Homo sapiens: one gene and its partner. The gene in region 1 interacts genetically with each later gene. Each region holds a gene or a part of one and is shown on either strand. Other genes may lie near its edges.

Region 1 (10,672 bases):
AACCTCAGATTCCCATAGGTCTTTTGCAACCCAAATGTCTGATGGGGACAGGCCTGTCTTCATAGGTGGCTGCCACACTCAACAATTTGGCTGTGCTCTATGGCAAAAGGGGCAAGTACAAGGAGGCAGAGCCTCTGTGCCAGCGGGCACTGGAGATTCGAGAAAAGGTACCCATGCCCTCTCTCCCTTCTTCTCTTGTCGCTGTGACCCTTCTCTACATGGCTCCTCTGGTCTAACCCTCCTCCTTCACTTTTTTTTTCTCACCCCCATCTCTGCTTTGTTCTCTCTTCCTTCATTCCCTTTCCTCTGCTTTCCACATGTGTGTGCCTACATGCAAACACACGTGTGCTTGTGCACACACATGTTATCATAGCCATTTATCCACTCCTTTGTTCCCTTTCAGGTCCTGGGCACGAATCATCCAGATGTGGCAAAACAGCTGAACAACCTGGCCCTCTTGTGCCAAAACCAGGGCAAGTATGAGGCCGTGGAACGCTACTACCAGCGAGCACTGGCCATCTACGAGGGGCAGCTGGGGCCGGACAACCCTAATGTAGCCCGGACCAAGAACAACCTGGTATGGGAGGAGGGACAAAGTAGGTGGAAGAAACGGAGAGGGGGGCACAGAGGTGGGGGGAGGGGGGGCAGGCGGAGAGGCCACTTGGGTCCTAGAGTCAGGAAGCATCACAGTCTGGCACACTGCTCTCATCAACTTTGTGCTCATGTCTGGGGCTGCCTTTGCGGATGAAGGATCTGCTTCATTCCAGTTATAGAAGTTCCACAGCTTCTTGGGAGTGGGCTGGGAATACCCTTGACCCTACACCTGGAGAAGGAGGTGTGAGAAAGATCTCTGGGGAAAGTGAGAGAGACACTGAGAAGTGGAACTCCCTGAGCCTGGTGAAGACCTTGTCTAAAAAAAAAAAAAAAAAAAAGACCTTGCCTCCCTCCATGTTTTGTTCCTGTATTTTTGCCTTTCTGTCCTCCAGGCTTCCTGTTACCTGAAACAGGGCAAATATGCTGAGGCTGAGACACTATACAAAGAGATCCTGACCCGTGCCCATGTACAGGAGTTTGGGTCTGTGGATGGTGAGTGGTGAGGGCCTGGGGAAGGGGCTGTGGGGAAGAAAAGAAATTCAGACCAAAGGTCGGGGGTTAGGCCACAGCGGTTCCCAGGGGGAGCCAGACCCCTTCAGTCCAGCCTGTCAGCCTCTGGGTCCTGGCTCTCCGACACTGTCTAGCTCCCATCTCTAACCTCCCCACCCCATGTATCACCCCTAGATGACCACAAGCCCATCTGGATGCATGCAGAGGAGCGGGAGGAAATGAGCAAAGTGAGTGGGGGGAAGGGGGGCCAGCCTGGGGAGCTCAAGGCTACCGGGGTCTCTGTCTTACTCCTTGCATTAGCCCAACTCTCACTTCCCATCCCAGCACCAGCCCCAGATGCATGGTGTCCTCCCCAGCCCAGCCTGCACCCTAGCCCCATGCCACCTTGCATCTCAGCATCTCTGTATTCTTATATTTGGCTCTCCCTGCCCTTCTTTCTGGCCTCTCTCTGTCCTGCAGAGCCGGCACCATGAGGGTGGGACACCCTATGCTGAGTATGGAGGCTGGTACAAGGCCTGCAAAGTGAGCAGGTGAGCTGACAGTGAAAAGCCAGCTTGGCCTCCGATGCCCTCCATCCAGTCCCTGCTCCCAGCCTCCCAGACCTTTTCCCTTCCTCCCGTAGACTTTCCCTCAGCTTTAGCTCTGTTCCCTCTCCTATTTTCTTATTTTTTTTCCTCTTGTCTTGCTTGGAAGACAAATGTTTTGTTTTCTGAACTCATTCTCTCTTCCTTCTCTGGTCTCTTTCTCACCACAGCCCCACAGTGAACACTACTCTGAGAAACCTGGGAGCTCTGTATAGGCGCCAGGGAAAGCTGGAGGCTGCTGAGACCCTGGAGGAATGTGCCCTGCGGTCCCGGAGACAGGTCAGAAGCCCAGAGGGGAAGGAGGTCCTAGAGGGAAGGGCCCTGGGGATGAGAGAGTGCCGAGGTTTCTTGGGAGTCTCCTAAGAATAAGCGGAAAGGCTGATGAAGCCAGGAGGGAGAGGAAAGTGAGGCAGTGTTGTGATTGTGGTTGTTTTTAAGCATGTTCTTACCCCCCACCTGCATTTTGTGGTCAGGACTCTAGTTTCAAGATTCACTAAATGGGGATATGAAGGAGAAACCCTGCCCTTTCATAAGGAGGGGACCTGGGTGGTATGGGTGAGAGGAGTGAGGTTGGGGAGAGCCTAAATCAAGAATTTCTTAGATTGTGGGTCTCAATAGTAGGTTGTGAAATCAATTCAGTATGGGCCATGGGGATAAAAATATATACAGATCTATATATAGCAATGCATTGCAAATAGAAAAGGTAAGTATTATTCCAGTAGGTATAAACTGAGACATCACAAGGAAAAATGTTTTCCTTCCAGTGGCTGATGGTGAAAAAAATTTGAAAGCCCCATCCTGAGGAGTTAAGGAGTAGGAAGTCCCAGGTCCTTCCTTTTCCTTCCAGGGCACTGACCCTATCAGCCAGACGAAGGTGGCAGAGCTGCTTGGGGAGAGTGATGGTAGAAGGACCTCCCAGGAGGGCCCTGGAGACAGTGTGAAATTCGAGGGAGGTGAAGATGCTTCTGTGGCTGTGGAGTGGTCCGGGGTAAGTCTGATCATTGCCTTTTCATCTCTCCTGCCCACTCCTGCTGGTGGTGGTGAGAGGCTCTTGGCCATGCTGTCCCAGTCTAGGTAGTGTATTCCTTCAGGGGTATCTCTGGGAGCCAGTTTTTGACAGGACTTTTATTTCCAGTCACTGGGCCTTGGGGGTGGGGGATGTGTGCAGAATAAATGCTAGGAGTAGACTCAGAAACCCATCTGTGTGGGATCCTTGTAGCTTTCATTGCTCACTCCTTTCTGCCAGGATGGCAGTGGGACCCTGCAGAGGAGTGGCTCTCTTGGCAAGATCCGGGATGTGCTCCGCAGAAGCAGTGAACTCTTGGTGAGGAAGCTCCAGGGGACTGAGCCTCGGCCCTCCAGGTATACATGGAAGTCAAGATACAGTAAAGTGGCCGGGTGCAGTGGCTCACGCCTGTAATCCCAGCACTTTGGGAGGCCGAGGCGGGTGGATCACCTGAGGTCAGGAGTTTGAGACCAGCCTGGCCAACAAGGTGAAACTCTCTCCTAAAAATACAAAAATTAGTCGGGTGTGGTGGCAGGTGCCTGTAATCTCAGCTACTTGGGAGGCTGAGGCAGGAGAATTGCTGGAACCCAGGAGGCAGAGGTTGCAGGGAGCCAAGATCATGCCATTGCACTCCAGCCCAGGCGACAACAGCGAGACTCCGTCTCAAAAAAAAAAAGAAAAAAAAAAAAGATATGGTAAAGCAGGCAAGTAAAGTAAGCCCTTGCCTCCAACTCCTCTTGGCTCCTGATCTCTGGAGAAGTATCTCGGAGAGAAACAGGGAGGAAGTCAACGGGCCAGCCATGGAGAGAGAGTTTGGGTAGAATGGGTGCCCCAGTGTGGCAGTGCTCAAGAGGCCCACAGCCTTAAGGCCACTCAGGAGGAAGAGAGGAGGCCTCAATTCTTCCGTTTTCCATTGTAGCAGCAACATGAAGCGAGCAGCCTCCTTGAACTATCTGAACCAACCTAGTGCAGCACCCCTCCAGGTGAGAGCAGTGCTTGTGAGCATATTGGTGGGTGAGGAAAAAAGGACAGCCAGTGAGCAAGCCCAGTGGAGTAAGGGAAGAGGGAAGGGAGAGGAGTCATCTGGGATGAAGATGAGCCAGGGGATTGCAGTCATTAAGGAATCAGGCAGATAGCTTGTGGTGAGTGCTGACCACCAAGGGACAGTTTCAGGCCAGACATAGTAGCAAATAAGTTAATAAGGAGGGAAATAGGAATATTCTGTAAACTGGTACTTTGGAATTATGAATAATTTAAGAATTATTTGGAGATACGAATTATTTTTTCATCCTGCAGCCGCCTTAGTAGTAGATGAGAATGGAAAAAGAAAAGTATTAAATAATCCCCATCTGAGAAAACACTAGTGATATTTTAATGGCAAATGACTTCTTGTATCAACACACAAGTATATGCCAGTATTCATGTGGTTCTTCCAGGTAGCTTCTCCACCAGATTGTGGCCTTCTGGAAAACCCTAGCAGAGGCTAAACAAAGTCCCAGGTCCAGAGATAGACTGGTCCAGAGACAGATGTGATCCTAGGTCCAGAGATACACTGTGACCATGGGATGGATGGACTCTAGGAGCCAGTCTTTGGGAGGCCGAGGTCCCTGAGCTGATGGGGTAGTGTTGTCTGTTTCAGGTCTCCCGGGGCCTCAGTGCCAGCACCATGGACCTCTCTTCAAGCAGCTGACATTCAACCCGGCCCCCAGGTCTGCTGGGTCCCCCCACCCCCACAGCCCTCACAGCATTCCCCATTGCTCCTGGCTCTTCCCCACCCCTAGGTGGGACAGTGAAGGGGAGCAGTTTAACCAGAAGATTGCTGCTGCCCTTAGGGTCTCAGCTCCCTCCTCAGGAATCCCTCTTAGGAAGGACCCTCAGGACACCCTCTCTGCACCCTGTGGTCCTCTAGAGTAGCTAGCTCTGAGGCCCCAAGGTGGGTACAAAGCAGGTATGGCCCTCAGAGATGCAGCCTGCTGCTGGCTTTTCAGTCAGAGGGTTGGGGGCTGGCCAGCCAAGCTGCCTTGCCCTGGCCGCTCTTACTCCCTCCCTCTGCTGTCTCACTTCAGGTCCATGTATTTCACTTTTCTTAAATAAAAGAATCAGGTAACCTTTCTGTGACTTGAGTCCTGATTGAAGAGGGTATGAAGCAGGGCTTGTGTTGGGGCCCTTCACAGAAGGTGAGGGGCAGTGATGGATGGAGCAGCAGGAGGAGTGTTGATTCTTGGATCTCTCCTCTCTTCCTCCCGTTGTTTGTATCATCTCCAGCAGGGCCTGTAGGAAGGCATCTGGGGGATGGGGAAGAAGGAGGCTCACAACCCAAGGAGAAGGTGCTGTGGACTGGGTTGTCAGGGACATGTGGTGGCCATGTGGCAGGACCCTGGAGTCCTGGCGCCACTTCTCCTGGCTGTGAGGCCCTCTGTGGCTGCCATTCCTCCTCCCAGCTGCTTGGGGGAAGGGAGGTCTAAACAGGCCTGGGGGGCCCTCCGGAACCAGAGGGGAGACAAGGCACTATCCATCCCCTCTCAGCATATCTTGGAGGCCTGAGCAGCAGCTGGGGCCCATCTTCTAAAGCTTGACTCCTCCTGACCCGCCTCCTACACCCCTTGCTGCTTTCACAACAAAGAAAGAATGTGGGGGTGGTGGCGCTGGGGGTGGGGGTGCCTGGAACAAGGGTTGTGCTGGGCCTCCCCACAGCTGGAGACTTGGCCATACCCTGACACAGCCCAGACTGCCTGGAGATGGACTTGGGATGAATTTGTCAGTTAGCAGACTTCAGCCTGGCTTTCAGAGCCCAGCGTGTTTCTACCTTTGGGTTCAGATTGGTCTACAGCCAAACCAGACCCCAGTCATGCACACTTCAGCCCCTCTCCGGGCTACACAGCATCTTCAGGTTACTTGGGGACATTAAGGACACCCTGCTGTTCTGGGTCTGCCGTTAAGATTTTGGGTTGCTGAAGAGTTGGCGGGGCCCGCCTCTTCCCCTGCCCCCACCTGGAGAATTCTGGGGGAACTGTTGGCCAGAGCCTCCAGGTATGCCCAGAATGGACCATTCTCCCCAGGGTCCACGGAATCGCACAAGTCACTTAGGTTCTCCCGGATCCCTGCAGAGTCGGTGGTGGGTACAGCAAATACTCAGGTCCCCTGCACTTCCCTGAGCCTTGCTCTCTCTATTCTCCATCCCTCTCCAGACCCCTCCCCCTACTGAGCTCCTCCCCGCCTCGGCGAGGAGGGGGCGTCGAGGGGGCGGGGCGCCGTGCGGGGGCCGGAGGGGAGGGGGCGTCGTGGGGCGGGGCTTGGCGGCGGCGGCGGCGGCGCGCGGGGACTCGGAGGTACTGGGCGCGCGCGGCTCCGGCTCGGGACGCCTCGGGACGCCTCGGGGTCGGGCTCCGGCTGCGGCTGCTGCTGCGGCGCCCGCGCTCCGGTGCGCTCCGCCTCCTGTGCCCGCCGCGGAGCGCAGTCTGCGCGCCCGCCGTGCGCCCTCAGCTCCTTTTCCTGAGCCCGCCGCGATGGGAGCTGCGCGGGGATCCCCGGCCAGACCCCGCCGGTTGCCTCTGCTCAGCGTCCTGCTGCTGCCGCTGCTGGGCGGTGAGTACCCGAGAGTTGGGGGCACAGAGCTTGGGAAGCGCGGGAGTCCCGTGGGCAAAAGGCTGCGCCCGGGGCGGTGGGTTTGGGCGGCTGGAACGGCCCTGGAGTAGTGGAGAGGCTCGCTGGGGGTGCAGGCTTGCGGCGGAAGGGCGCAAGGAGCCCGGGTGTCGGGAGGCTGGCGAAGCCTCCAGGGACGCGGTCAGGGTACCCCTCCCACTCGCGCCGCGGGGACGCATTTCCAGCCTCCCTGAGTTTTTCTGGTCTGAGCCGAGAGTTTGCTCGAGAACTGCCGAGAGTTGCTGGCTCTCGGGCCCAGATGGGGAGTTTCTTGTCGGGGGAGAAAAGACCATCCGCACCCACCGTGGGGAGCGCGATGGAGAAAAAGGAATTCCCCACCCCACCCGGCAGGGTCGGCCCAGGTAAGAGTTGCTGGTTTGGGGCCCGATGCCGGACAGACCTGCGGCGCGCAAAGCGCGGAGCTTTGTTACCTACGCCGACCCGACGTTCCCGGCTTCCCTCCTCCGAGTTCCTGGGCAAAGCTGAGACCCCAGATGGCCCTGCGGGTGAGGGCGGAAGAAGGGAAGAGTTAGGGGCCGCCCCCATCCATGGCCTCTAGCTACTGGTCTGGAACCCTGCGCCCACTCCGTGCCAGGGCCGAATCCGGGGATCCGAGGGTCCCAGGCTGTCGCGGTGACTAATGTGTGAAGGCCGCTGCCAAAATCGGGCATGGCCTGGCTGCAAAGGTGCGGACGGGGTTTGTTCTGCTCCTTCCTGGATTTCCATCCTGACTGTCCTCACAGAGGAAAGGAAGTATTTCTAAGGGAAGAAAGGCAAAAAGAGCTCATTCTGGCTTTTCTTGGGGGGGGGCCTTAGCATTTTAACGAGGGTGTGGCCCTCATCACCAGGGCAGACAGCACCGCCCCCCCAACTCCCGCAGCTTTTATTTCCTGGCTTGGTCACACCTAAGAGTCATCACTGAGGTGTTGAAGTGCCTTACAGGAAAGCACCAAGCCACCCGCACATCCCAAATAGCCCGGACTGGAAATAAAGCCCCCGACCCTCCACAACACTCCTTGGTGGTCCTCGAAGCAGCTTTCTCTTGGGGAGCTCTGTCGAGGAGACCTGTCCTAGGTGATCACCTTCCATCTCCTTTGAAGGTGGCAATGGGAAGGGCATGGGTAAGGAATTGCCTTTCTAATATCTTTCTGGCCTGCCAGCTGTGGAGGGGTTTTGGTGCTGGTGGAATCAACATCTCCCCTGCCCCCAGTTGTAAAAGGAGAGGTAAATGTAACCCAGGAAAGAGACCAATCTCCAGGGATTTGGAGGAGGTGTTTCTGGAGTTGCCCCGTTTTTCTTGTGATGTGTGTGGTGGTTATTGCTCGTGGCAGAATCCACATCTGCTCCCAGAGGAAGTATGGAAGTTTTTTTGCACAGCCAGGATGGGGGCCCAGCCATCTGGGCGAGCAGCCCAAGCTCACAGGCCCCCTGGCTGTCCTGGTTGGGTTTTGGTGTGTGGGTCTGCCCAATGAGGCTGCCTTCACTGCTGCTGTTCAGGGTACTAGAGTCAAGGGGAGTTTCTGGTGAAGATGGGGCTCTTGCTCAACAAATGCTGAATTCCTAAATTCCTTCCATGAGAAGATGACTCTGATGTTAATTGACTTAATCTGGTGACTGGTTGGTGTTTAGTGTGTGTGCGCGCGTGTGTGTGGGGGATCCTGTTGGGGGAAGTTAGGGCAGGCTGAGGGCTTAGGACAGGAGGTCTGTAGTCTCCTCAGGGGTGGGGGGATGTCTTGTGCTCAACAAAGGAACATTTTAATGAGAGCCTTAAATCAATTCCACCAAATGTGCCTTGTTGTGGAACCTGTCCATGTGCTGTAAACAATTTCAGTGGAGGCCGAGGCGCCTGCTGTCTTCTAGTGAAATCCTGGGACTCAACCCACCCCCAGACGCATGACTTCAGGGGCAACGGTTTTTTAATAGATCACAGTAGATGTTTGCATCTCATTGTTTAATTGTGTAATTAACTGGAGTTGTAGTGAGATCCCACTGTTAATAAGGCTGGAGTAAGGAACCTAGGCTGGCTAGGTTTGTGGATTAGACCATTTTAAAGTCTGGGTAATTATGCCATAAATGGCAGAGTTACTTTCCAAACTTTGAGATGCTGTTGTAATAAATATGGTGGAGGAGGAGGAGGCTTGATGTTTGAAACTATGGATTCTTAACCCCAACCTCTTGTACAGTCAGCTGTGGTCACTTCTCATTCCAATTCCCATCCCCCTCCCTGGTTTCTTTCCTCCGGGCTCTTGTTTCTTTGGGGAAATTGAGTCGTCATGTTCTGGGATAGGCTGTCTGCAGATTCCTCAAGGCTCTGCAGCCTGTAATTCAGGCCTAGGAGTTGCTTTTATTAGTGATGGCTTTTCTCAGCTGTTGGGAAGTATGGTGGCAGGGCAAGGGTGCTCTTCTTGTCACTTGTCAAATGATATACTCAAACTCCTGGTGTTCAGAGCAGCATTGAGTGGTGGACAGAGCTCAAGCAATGGAGATAAAGTATGGTCCTTCCTTGGCATCTGCAGGGAATTGGAATAGGACTCCCTGAGAATAACAAAATCCAAGGGTGCGGCCAGGCCTGGTGGCTCACGCCTGTAATCCCAGCACTTTGGGAGGCCGAGGCGGGCGGATCATGAGGTCAGGAGATTGAGACCATCCTGGCTAACACGGTGAAACCCTGTCTCTACTAAAAATACAAAAAATTAGCCAGGCGTGGTGGCGGGTGCCCGTAGTCCCAGCTACTCGGGAGGCTGAGACAGGAGAATGGCCTGAACCCGGGAGGTGGAGCTTGCAGTGATCGTGCCACTGCACTCCAGCTTGGGCGAGATCGTGCCGAGATCGTGCCACTGCACTCCAGCTTGGGTGACAGAGCGAGACTCCGTCTCAAAAAAAAAAAAAAATCCAAGGGTGCTCAAGTCTCTTATATAAAATGGTGTCGTATTTACATATAACGTACACACAACTTCCCTGTATACTTTTGTTTTGTTTTGTTATGAGACAGGGTCTCCTCTATCACCCAGGCTAGAGTGCAGTGGCACAATCTTGGCTCACTGAAGCCTCAAATTCCTGGGCTCAAGCAGTCTTCCTGCCTCAGTGCTCTAAAGTATGAGGATTACAGGCATGATCCACTATGCCCAGCTTCTCCTGTATACTTTAAATCATCTCTAAGGGCCAGGTTTACGCCTGTTATCCCACCACTTTGGGAGGCAGAGGGAGGAGGATCGCTTGAGCCCAGGGGCTCAAGACCAGCCTTGGCAACACAATGAGACCTCCACCTGTACAAAAAAAAAAAAAAAATTGCCAGGCATGGTGGCACGTGCCTGTGGTCCCAGCTGCCCAGGAGACTGAGGTGGGAGTATTGCCTGAGCCCAGCAGGTTGAGGCTACAGTAAGCCATGATTGTGTCACTGCACTTCGGTCTGGGTGACAGAGTTCAAAAAAAAAAAAAAAAAAAAGGGCAGGATGCAGTGGCTCACGCCTGTAATCCCAGCACTTTGGGAGGCTGAGGTGGGCGGATCATGAGGTTAGGAGAGCGAGACCATCCTGGCTAACATGGTGAAACCCCATCTCTACTAAAAATACAAAAAATTAGCCAGGCGTGGTGGCAGGCGCCTGTAGTCCCAGCTACTTGGGAGGCTGAGGCAGGAGAATGGCGTGAACCCGGGAGGCAGAGCTTGCAGTGAGCCGAGATTGCACCACTGCACTCCAGCCTGGGTGTCAGAGCGAGACTCTGTCTCAAAAAAAACAAAAAAATCTGTAAATTACTTGTAATACCTATTACAATGGAAATGCTATGTAAATAACTGTTGTATTCTTTAATTTGTATTCTTTTTTATTGTTGTATTGTTTTTAATTTTTATCTTCCCCCAGTGTTTTTGATCCTCTGTTGAGGGATGTGGAGCCCAGGGATAAGGAGTATATCTGGCAAAGCAGCAACTCAGACTCATTGGCAGGCCCTGTGGCCCTGGATGAACCTCTTAGCTTCTCAGCCTCTTCTATAAAGGGACATCCTAGAGTTGTGCTGAGGATTAAGTATAATGAAGTAGGCCGGGTGCAGTGGCTCACATCTGTAATCCCAGCACTTTGGGAGGCCAAGGCAGGCGGATCACCTGAGGTCAGGAGTTCAAGACCAGCCTGGACAACATGGTGAAGCCCCGTCTCTACTAAGAATACAAAAATTAGCTGGGTGTGGTGGCACACACCTCTAATCCCATCTACTCAGGAGGCTGAGGCAGGAGAATCACTTGAACCCGGGAGGTGGAGGTTGCAGTGAGCCGAGATCGCGCCGCTGCACTCCAGCCTGGGCGACGGAACGAGACTCCGTCTCAAAAAAAAAAAATACACAC
Region 2 (10,483 bases), on another chromosome or scaffold:
GACAGGGTTTCTCCATGTTGCTCAAGCTAGTTTCGAACTCCCAACCTCAGGTGATCCACCCACCTCGGCCTCCCAAAGTGCTGGGATTACAGGCATGAGCCACTGCAAAGGCCTTTTACCCTCTCTTTTTATGCTTTTCATTCCTTTTTATCCATTCTTCATTTTAGGTAGTTTCTGCTGTCCTTTCTTCCAATTTATTACTTGCTCCTCAGTTTAGTCTAACATAGTATTAAATCTATCATTTGGTTCTTAATTTTGGTCTTTTAATATTTTGGGTCTGTATTATTATTATTTTTGAGACAGGGTCTCACTCCTGTTGCCCAGGCTGGAGTTCAGTGGCATAAACACAGCTCACTGAAGCCTCAACCTCTTGGGCTCAAGCGATCCTCCTGTGTCAACCTCCAGAGTAGCTCGGACTATAGGCATATGTCACCACACCCAACTAATTTTTTAATTTTTGGTAGAGATAAGGTCTCACTATGTTGCCTAAGCTGGTCTCCAACTCCTGGGCTCTAGTGATCCTCACCTCAGCCTCCCAAAGTTCTGGGATTACAGATGTGAGGCACCAAGCAGGACCTTAGATTTTCTATTTATTCTACTCCCAGGTTGCCCCTAGGAGTGCAGCCTTTTGAGATCCTAGCCCAAAACACGAAGGTGGTTTACCAAGGTTATCACCTTTGGGGACATTTGGACTCCTTTTTTTTTTTTTTTTTTTGAGAGTGAGTTTCCCCCTATTGCCCAGGCTGGAGTGCAGTGGCGCAATCTCGGCTCACTACAACCTCTGCCTCCTGGGTTCAAGTGATTCTCCTGCCTCAGCCTCCCGAGTAGCTGGGCTTACAGGCATGCACCACCACGCCTGGCTAATGTTTGTATTTTTAGTAGAGATGGGGGGTCTCACCATCTTGTGCAGGCTGGACTTGAACTCCTGATCTCATGATCCATCCATCTCAGCCTCCCAAAGTGCTGGGGTTACAGGCATGAGCGACCGTGCCTGGCCCTTTTTCTTTTTTTTAATTTAAAAAAATTGAAATGGGGTCTCGCTCTGTTGCCCAGGCTGGTCTGAAACTCCTAAGCTCAAGCCATCCTCCCGCCTTGGCCTCCTAAAGTGCTGGGATTACAGGTGTGAGCCACCACACCCGGCCTGGACTTCACCGGCCCCACACAACCTATTTTCTGCCACTAATTCCAAATCAGCAAATGACCCCAGGGTAAAATCAGCCCTACTGCTGGGCTTACTTCTCTACTTTCCTGTACTTTCATGCTGTCACACCAATAATTTCTCACTATCTTATTTTTTTAATTATTATTATTTTTTGAGATGAAGTTTTGCTCGAAATGGAGTGAAATGGTACGATCTCAGCTCATTGCAACCTCCGCCTCCTGTGTTCAAGCAATTCTGCCTCCGCCTCCCAAGTAGCTGGGATTACAGGCACCTGCCACCACGCCCGGCTAATTTTTGTATTTTTAGTAGAGACGGGGTTTTGCCACGTTGGCCAGGCTGGTCTCGAACTCCTGACCTTAGGTGATCCACCTGCCTTGGCCTCCCAACGTGCTAGGACTATAGGCGTAAGCCACTGTGCCTGGCCTCACTATCTTATTAGTTCTTTTATTATTATTTATTTATTTATTTATTTATTGTTTTTTTTGAGACAGGGTCTTGCTCTGTTGCCCAGGCTGGAGTGCAGTGGTGTGATCTCGGCTCACTGCAATCTCTGCTTCTGGGTTCAAGTGATTCTTGTGCCTCAGCCTCCCGAGTAGCTGGGATTACAGGTGTGCACCACCAAGCCCGGCTATTTTTTTTTTTTTTTTTTTGAGACAGAGTTTCACTCTTGCTGCCCAGGCTGGAGTGCAGTGGTGGGATCTCGGCTCACTGCAACCTCAACCCCCTGGGTTCAAGCAATTCTGCCTCAGCCTCCCGAGTAGCTGGGATTACAGGCACCTGCCACCACGCTTGGCTAATTTTTTTTTTTTTTTGAAGAGACGGAGTCTTGCTCTGTCACCCAGGCTGGAGTGCAGTGGCGCGATCTCGGCTCACTGCAAGCTCCGCCTCCCAGGTTCGAGCCATTCTCCTGCCTCAGCCTCCTGAATAGCTGGGGCTACAGGCGCCCGCCACTGTGCCCAGCTAATTTTTTGTATTTTTAGTAGAGACAGGGTTTCACCATGTTAGCCAGGATGGTCTCAATCTCCTGACCTTGTGATCCGCCCATCTCGGCCTCCCAAAATGCTGGGATTACAGGCTTGAGCCACTGCGCCCGGCCCAGTTCTTTTATTTTTATTTTTATTTATTTATTGTTTTTTGAAACAGGGTCTTGCTCTGCTGTCCAGGCTGGAATGCAGGTGCGCAATCTTGGCTCACTGAAACCTCTGCCTCCTGGGTTCAAGTGATTCTTGTGCCTCAGCCTCCCTAGTACCTGGGATTACAGGCATGCACCACCAAGCCCGGCCAATTTTTTTTTTTTCTTTGAGACAGAGTTTCACTCTTGTTGCCCAGGCTGGAGTGCAATGGCATGATCTTGGCTCACCGCAACCTCTGCCTCCCAGGTTCAAGCGATTCTCCTGCCTCAGCCTCCTGAGTAGCTGGGATTACAGGCATGCGCCACCATGTCCGGCTAATTTTTGTATTTTTAGTAGAGACAGGGTTTCTCCGTGTTGGTCAAGCTAGTCTCGAATTCTCAACCTAAGGTGATCCACCCGCCTCGGCCTCCCAAAGTGCTAGGATTACAGGCATGAGCCACCGCACCTGGCCTACACCCAGCTAATTTTTGTATTTTTAGTAGAGACGGGGTTTCATCATGAAGGCCAGACTGGTCTTGAACTCCTGGCCTCAAGTGATCAGCCCACTTCCGCCTCCCAAAGTGCTGGGACTACAGGTATGAGACACCATGCCCAGCCAGTTCTTTGATTTTTAAAAAAGTATTTCATCCAACACTTTTAGTTGTCTGTAGCTTTAGGGCTAGTTCACCATTATTGAAAGGAGCTCAATTACTAAACTATATTTCTAGTCCAGTCATTTCTTCTGAGCTCCAGCTCCACTAGTCCGAGGCCTATCAGACACTTCCACTTGATTATCTATAGGCACCTCACATCCAATAAACTAAAAGTATCATCCTTCCAAAACCTTCTTCAGCTTCTCAGCTAATGGGATCAACATCACCTAGATCTGTTATTTGTATAATGTCCTCACTTCCCAAAGTTCAACTGATTCTACTTACAAAACATCTCCCCATCTGCATCTGCTGTCTACCTCTACAATCTCTGGAATCCGCCATCTCCATTACAGGACAAGAACATTATGCCTGTCACACAAAAGCTTTCATAATCTTCCCTCCACTGCCCTCTTCCCTGCCTCTCTTCCTCAGTCATCCTACATGCACACACCTTACATCCTAGATCAGGGCTGAAAACACAAACTCCTACTACAGCCAGGCAGGTAATGCACCTGAGTGAAGCAGGGTGCCTAGGAACCATAATGAACTAGACTCATTTCAAGGAGATAATGGATACTTGCTCTGGTTAATTGCTCATGGAGGGATGCAGGACAATATATTGCCAGCTCTTCCAATATTTTAAGGAAAGTCAGAAATCCAGGTTGGGCCTGGTGGCTCACACATGTTATCCAGGAATTTTGGGAGGCCAATGCAAGAGGATCGCTTGAGCCTAGGAGTTCAAGACCAGCCTGGGCAACATAGGGAGACCTCCATCTTTGAAGGAAAAAAAAAAAAAAGTCAGAAATCCAAATATTCATGTACCATCTTTTTTTTTTTTTTTTTTTTGAGACGGAGTCTTGCTCTGTTGCCCAGGCTGGAGTGCAGTGGCGCAATCTCGGCTCGTTGCAACCTCTGTCTCCCGGATTCAAGCAATTCTCTACCTCAGCCTCCCAAGTAGCTGGGATTACAGGCGGCCGCCACCATGTCTGGCTAATTTTTGTATTTTTAGTAGAGACGGGGTTTCACCATCTTGGCCAGGCTGATCTTGAACTCCTGACCTCATGATCCACCCACCCTGACCTCCCAAAGTGCTGGGATTAGAGGCTTGAGCCACCTTGCCCGGCCCCATCTTATGATATTTAAGTGTGGGGAATTAAATACAATATACATAAAGAGAATGCAAGCCAAAGCATGCCTGCCATCTCAAGTTGGCCTATCGACCACAATTTGCTCTAGATAATAAGAATATTCAAGTCTCCTAAAATTCCATATATAGGAAATGTACTTCAACATTCTGCTCTGTCTACACAGAATACCTTTCTCATCCTTCCATCCTCTTGAATTATTTCTTTTTTGGAGATTTTCTGGCCCCAATCCAAGCAGAATGAATAGCCCTCATCTGAGTCCTTTAGCAATTTATCCATGTCTCCCCTGTAGTGCTTAATGCATGTTGCATTACGGTTATTTGTCCCAAATGGAGCTCCTCAAAGGCACGGACTATATATATTCATCTTTATGCCCTCGGCACCTAGTGGGTGCTTAATGCACCGAAGGTTCTCTGGAAATGTTTGCTGACCTGAAGTTTGGTGATCTTATGTCCTGCTTAGGCGCAGCGTTGGAGAGGTTGGCGCTGCAATGCCGTCAATAACCCCCGATGACCATTAGAGGGCACACTGATTCCACAGCAGTCTGCACCGGGGGCCCAGCTGTCAAGTGCTCCAAAACCCACTCCCCAATTTACGCCTCCAGTGGTCATCTCCCACAGCCTTCATTTTAACAACCCTCAACACAAAACAGTCATTTTCTTGGGGCGTCCCTGAGGTGTGAACCTCCTCCCTCCCAGACACCCACCCACTCTCCCCATCTTCCTACAATTTGGGCGCTAAAGATTTAATTCCTCTCTGACACCAGATCATTTTTTCACAGCTAATCTGCACAGTCTGGAAGGTGGCAGGGAGGGAAAGAGAGGGAGATCATAGAAGGAATGGGTAACAAGCACTCTGGGCTCACCTTCAACTTTAACGGACTTTCCAGAAACCCGTCACCTTCCACCCCACACCCAAACACACACATCCACGCACTCACTCAGTTTCCTGCCAGGATCCCAAACCAGCACACCTTTCCCTCTTCCCCCGAGGAGACCAGGTAGGAGGCGAGGGAAAAGGTGGGGCGCAAGTGGGCCCCGGTTGCTTCCACACACACCCTCCGTTCAGCCGTCCTTTCCATCCCGGCGAGGGCGCACCTTCAGAGGGTCCTGTCCTCCAAAGAGGTAGGCGTGGGGCGGCCGAGACCGGGGAAGATGGTCCACGGGGAAGCGCGCGGGCTGGGCGGCGGGGAGGAAGGAGTTAAAGATCCTGGATTGGCTCTTCTGTCACTGAGTCTGGGAGGGGAAGCGGCTGGGAGGGAGGGTTCGGAGCTTGGCTCGGGTCCTCCACGGTTCCCTCCGGATAGCCGGAGACTTGGGCCGGCCGGACGCCCCTTCTGGCACACTCCCTGGGGCAGGCGCTCACGCACGCTACAAACACACACTCCTCTTTCCTCCCTCGCGCGCCCTCTCTCATCCTTCTTCACGAAGCGCTCACTCGCACCCTTTCTCTCTCTCTCTCTCTCTCTCTAACACGCACGCACACTCCCAGTTGTTCACACTCGGGTCCTCTCCAGCCCGACGTTCTCCTGGCACCCACCTGCTCCGCGGCGCCCTGCGCGCCCCCCTCGGTCGCGCCCCTTGCGCTCTCGGCCCAGACCGTCGCAGCTACAGGGGGCCTCGAGCCCCGGGGTGAGCGTCCCCGTCCCGCTCCTGCTCCTTCCCATAGGGACGCGCCTGATGCCTGGGACCGGCCGCTGAGCCCAAGGGGACCGAGGAGGCCATGGTAGGAGCGCTCGCCTGCTGCGGTGCCCGCTGAGGCCATGCCGGGGCCCCGGCGCCCCGCTGGCTCCCGCCTGCGCCTGCTCCTGCTCCTGCTGCTGCCGCCGCTGCTGCTGCTGCTCCGGGGCAGCCACGCGGGCAACCTGACGGTAGCCGTGGTACTGCCGCTGGCCAATACCTCGTACCCCTGGTCGTGGGCGCGCGTGGGACCCGCCGTGGAGCTGGCCCTGGCCCAGGTGAAGGCGCGCCCCGACTTGCTGCCGGGCTGGACGGTCCGCACGGTGCTGGGCAGCAGCGAAAACGCGCTGGGCGTCTGCTCCGACACCGCAGCGCCCCTGGCCGCGGTGGACCTCAAGTGGGAGCACAACCCCGCTGTGTTCCTGGGCCCCGGCTGCGTGTACGCCGCCGCCCCAGTGGGGCGCTTCACCGCGCACTGGCGGGTCCCGCTGCTGACCGCCGGCGCCCCGGCGCTGGGCTTCGGTGTCAAGGACGAGTATGCGCTGACCACCCGCGCGGGGCCCAGCTACGCCAAGCTGGGGGACTTCGTGGCGGCGCTGCACCGACGGCTGGGCTGGGAGCGCCAAGCGCTCATGCTCTACGCCTACCGGCCGGGTGACGAAGAGCACTGCTTCTTCCTCGTGGAGGGGCTGTTCATGCGGGTCCGCGACCGCCTCAATATTACGGTGGACCACCTGGAGTTCGCCGAGGACGACCTCAGCCACTACACCAGGCTGCTGCGGACCATGCCGCGCAAAGGCCGAGGTGAGACGCTGGCACACCCCGTCCCGCCGCTTAGCCGCAGGGCCTCCCCTCTGACCTGCCGGAGGCATCGGGACTTTCTCTCTCATCTGGGGGCACTCTTCTTTCTCCTCGCCGTTCTTCATTCTACTTTCAGCTCCCTGGCCCTTTCTACAGCTGAGTTTCTATTTCCCTCTCTTCTTCCGCCACCCCCACCACGTCTCTATCCTCTCATCTCCCCGACCCCCACTCATTCCCTCCCACCCTAGCACAGCTCGGTTCCGGTCCCTTTTTCCCTCCCACATTTTCTCTCTTCCCTATAGCCTTCTCCCTTCTTTCATCCTCTCCTCTCATTGCGCCTCATCCCCTCTCTTCTCCCCCTCCCTCTCCCTCCTCTCTCCCTCCTGGCCCCATCCTTCTCCACCTTCAGCTCCACTATCCCCCTCTCCCTACCCGTTCCTTCCTCCCTTCCGCCTCCCCCTTCCTCCTCCCGCCCACCGCCCCGCACCCGCCCGTTCCACCCTTCGACTTTCTCCTGCTGTGGCCTAGGCTGAGCCGGGAGTTACCACTTAACTCTCACTGGGTCTCTCCTGCACCCTATCTCTAAACTTCCTCCCTTGGGTGCCCCAGCTTTCCTACTCCTGTCTCTCCCGCAGTACCTAGGCTTCTCTCTCTGACTCTCCGTCTTTCTCCAGTTATCTACATCTGCAGCTCCCCTGATGCCTTCAGAACCCTCATGCTCCTGGCCCTGGAAGCTGGCTTGTGTGGGGAGGACTACGTTTTCTTCCACCTGGATATCTTTGGGCAAAGCCTGCAAGGTGGACAGGGCCCTGCTCCCCGCAGGCCCTGGGAGAGAGGGGATGGGCAGGATGTCAGTGCCCGCCAGGCCTTTCAGGTGAGTACCTAGGTTTGAAGCCCAGGCTGTCTCAGCTTGTGGCACATCATTTCTGGGCACTGTGTCCCTCAGCGTCTGAAAGAATTCCAGAAAAGAGGTTTTTGTCTGTTTGTTTCTTTATGCACTCCTGGTAACTCACAGAACAGAAAAGAGGTTGGTGATGCTCACTGGGAATTAGGCAATGAAGGGCAGGGGACTGCCCAGGGGCGCTTCGCCACCAGCAGGCTAAAAAGATAAGAAAATGGGCTTGAGGCGGGAGGAGGATAAAGTCCCACAGCCTGGACAGGACTTGGAGAAGGCATCCCATTGGATCCCCTGCTTTGGAATGGGCATCACTTCATGCAGGGCATAGGGTCCAGTTTGACCTTGAGCTAAGCAGAGACGCAGCTCTGGGAGGTGGGCTCCCAACTGTTGGGGCCCCACAGTACTAGGGAATAGTCAGCTCCCAACTCTCTGCTCTCCACTGACCCCTTTCTCAGGCTGCCAAAATCATTACATATAAAGACCCAGATAATCCCGAGTACTTGGAATTCCTGAAGCAGTTAAAACACCTGGCCTATGAGCAGTTCAACTTCACCATGGAGGATGGCCTGGTAAGAAGGGGTCCCGGGACCCTCCAGCGTGGACCTCCAGCCCCCACTCCATGACCCTCTGCCAGCCTCCATCCTTCCCTATTCCCAGTTCTCCCCTTCCTTCCCTCCCTTCCCATTGTTCCATGTTTCTCGTGATGATGGAGGAGGACACTGGCAAGTTCAGCCTCTGAAACTCAGGTCATCATCAGTAATATGGAGACGATACATCCTGCCCTGTCTACCTAGTAGGATTCAGGAAGTGATGCTAATCCAAAGGCATCGTTTAAATAGTAAAATCTCCCTGTGATATAGGGGTGTTATTTTCTCCCATCCTCTTCCAAAATCCCAGTGCCTCTTGTTCCCTTCCCCACAGCTCCCACCTCCATGCCCTTCATATGCCCACCCCAGCCGACCTCTGTTTGCCCCTACAGGTGAACACCATCCCAGCATCCTTCCACGACGGGCTCCTGCTCTATATCCAGGCAGTGACGGAGACTCTGGCACATGGGGGAACTGTTACTGATGGGGAGAACATCACTCAGCGGATGTGGAACCGAAGCTTTCAAGGTCAGGGCCTGGAGGTGGCTGGAATGGGCTGCCTTGGGGGATGAATCCCAGGTGCCCAGTGTCAAGCCATGAGAAGCCTATTGTCCTGCAGCAGTTACCTATGCACACCAGCCTTTTCCTCCACAGCTTTTTTCAGGCCCATCCCTCAGAAGTCCTACAAAGTGTCCAATCTCAATCATCCCTGCTGGGCACTGAGTTCTTTTACCTTTCTTTTTCTTTTTTCTTTTTTTTTTGAGATGGAGTCTCGCTCTGTCCCCAAGACTGGAGTGTGGTGGTGCAATCTCGGCTCACTTCAACCTCCGCCTCCCAGGTTCAAGCAATTCTCCTGCCTCAGCCTCCTGAGTAGCTGGGATTACAGGTGCCCTCCACCAACACTTGGCTAATTTTTTGTATTTTTTTTAGTAGAGACAGGGTTTCACCACGTTGGTCAGGCTGGTCTTGAACTCCTGACGTCAGGTGATCTGCCCGCCTCAGCCTCCCAAAGTGCTGGGATTACAAGCATGAGCCACAGTGCCCGGCCGTTTTACCATTTACTATCATTCTGTATACATGTATGTTTGGAAGGCAAGGCAAAAAAGATTAGAGGATGAAGAGATGAAGTGGGGCACCCCTGAACTTCTATTCTCTCAAACATAGTCATCTTCCCCCATGTCCTCAGGTGTGACAGGATACCTGAAAATTGATAGCAGTGGCGATCGGGAAACAGACTTCTCCCTCTGGGATATGGATCCCGAGAATGGTGCCTTCAGGGTAAGTTTGTGCACCCAGAAGACAGTGCCAATTCCAAATGACATCTCACCCTCCTACTTCCCCCCCACAGCCCTGCCAGGGCACCTGTTTATCCTGTAGCCATTCCACCATGCCTGGACACTTACAAGAGCCCTGGATAAAACAGACCCAGCTCCAGTCTGGGGAAGCCACCAGAATGATAGGGACTCACAGGCATCACACTTGGGGAGCCCCATGCCTGAGGAGGGAGCACAAGCCTGCCCTCGGGGAGCTCCGAAGGGAGGCAGGCAGGACCGCCTCCCAGCAGAGACAGGGCTGTGAAAGATGCACATTACACAGCTCTGCAAGCGAGCAGGGACAGGAAGGCGCTGAGGCCAATGGCCACAAGGGACAGGTCATCCAGAGAAGGCCTCCTGGAAGACGGGCACATGGACTGGGCCTGCGAATGTAGGCTAAGGTGAACATTACCTTCTCCTGTTTTCTACCAAGAAAATAAGTAGAGAAAAATCAATGCTTGGTTGGTACTTCAACCAAGATTATAAACTCCCTGAGTGTAGAGATCGGGTTCTAAATGGAGTTTTCTTTATAAACCCCTTGATAGTTTTCAGGTGTTTCCACTTGAGTACTATGTGTGTGGTATGAGGTCCTGTGTCCAGTTGCAGTGGGGACTTGGTAAGCAGGTGACAACCCAGATATATATGTAGGCTCTAGAAGCAGAGCTGGGGTAGGTGGGAGGTGAGACTGCTGCACTCACAGCATGCCTTCCCCGCAGGCCCTGGCCTAGCCACCACTCCTGCTCTCCCTTAGGTTGTACTGAACTACAATGGGACTTCCCAAGAGCTGGTGGCTGTGTCGGGGCGCAAACTGAACTGGCCCCTGGGGTACCCTCCTCCTGACATCCCCAAATGTGGCTTTGACAACGAAGACCCAGCATGCAACCAAGGTGACTGCCCCTTGCCTTCCAGGCCTCCATCCCAGAGATGCTGCATCCTTCCCCTAAGCACAGTCGAGTAGGTGCTCCTGTCCCATGCTGAGGGCTTTCTGGAGAATGACTCCTGCCTTTTTCTTCCCTTCATCCATCATCCCAGTTCACTGATGGACTATTAGAAAGTTCTTCCTCCTGCTGTCTAACCCAAATCTCTCTTGCTGCAATATGGACTCTCTCCTGCAGATCACCTTTCCACCCTGG

The links.
Region 2: changes in PTK7 (region 1) and NPR1 together harm fitness more than expected from each alone (negative genetic interaction), as found in Homo sapiens cells (one study listed by BioGRID).

What each region holds. Positions count from the first base shown.
Region 1 is NC_000006.12:43,070,289-43,080,960, forward strand, and holds the start of PTK7 (inactive tyrosine-protein kinase 7 isoform a precursor), read left to right. Parts: upstream 1-6,025; 5' UTR 6,026-6,200; coding exon 6,201-6,279; intron 6,280-6,525; exon of another isoform or gene 6,526-6,595; coding exon of another isoform or gene 6,596-6,698; intron 6,699-10,672. Other genes in the region: KLC4 (kinesin light chain 4), read left to right, coding at 66-167, 404-577, 987-1,086, 1,279-1,331, 1,564-1,634, 1,859-1,967, 2,536-2,676, 2,935-3,050 and 2 more. UniProt on the Homo sapiens protein: Inactive tyrosine kinase involved in Wnt signaling pathway. Component of both the non-canonical (also known as the Wnt/planar cell polarity signaling) and the canonical Wnt signaling pathway.
Region 2 is NC_000001.11:153,673,275-153,683,757, forward strand, and holds the start of NPR1 (atrial natriuretic peptide receptor 1 precursor), read left to right. Parts: upstream 1-5,413; 5' UTR 5,414-5,834; coding exon 5,835-6,555; intron 6,556-7,226; coding exon 7,227-7,426; intron 7,427-7,905; coding exon 7,906-8,019; intron 8,020-8,429; coding exon 8,430-8,565; intron 8,566-9,223; coding exon 9,224-9,315; intron 9,316-10,101; coding exon 10,102-10,237; intron 10,238-10,465; coding exon 10,466-10,483. UniProt on the Homo sapiens protein: Receptor for the atrial natriuretic peptide NPPA/ANP and the brain natriuretic peptide NPPB/BNP which are potent vasoactive hormones playing a key role in cardiovascular homeostasis.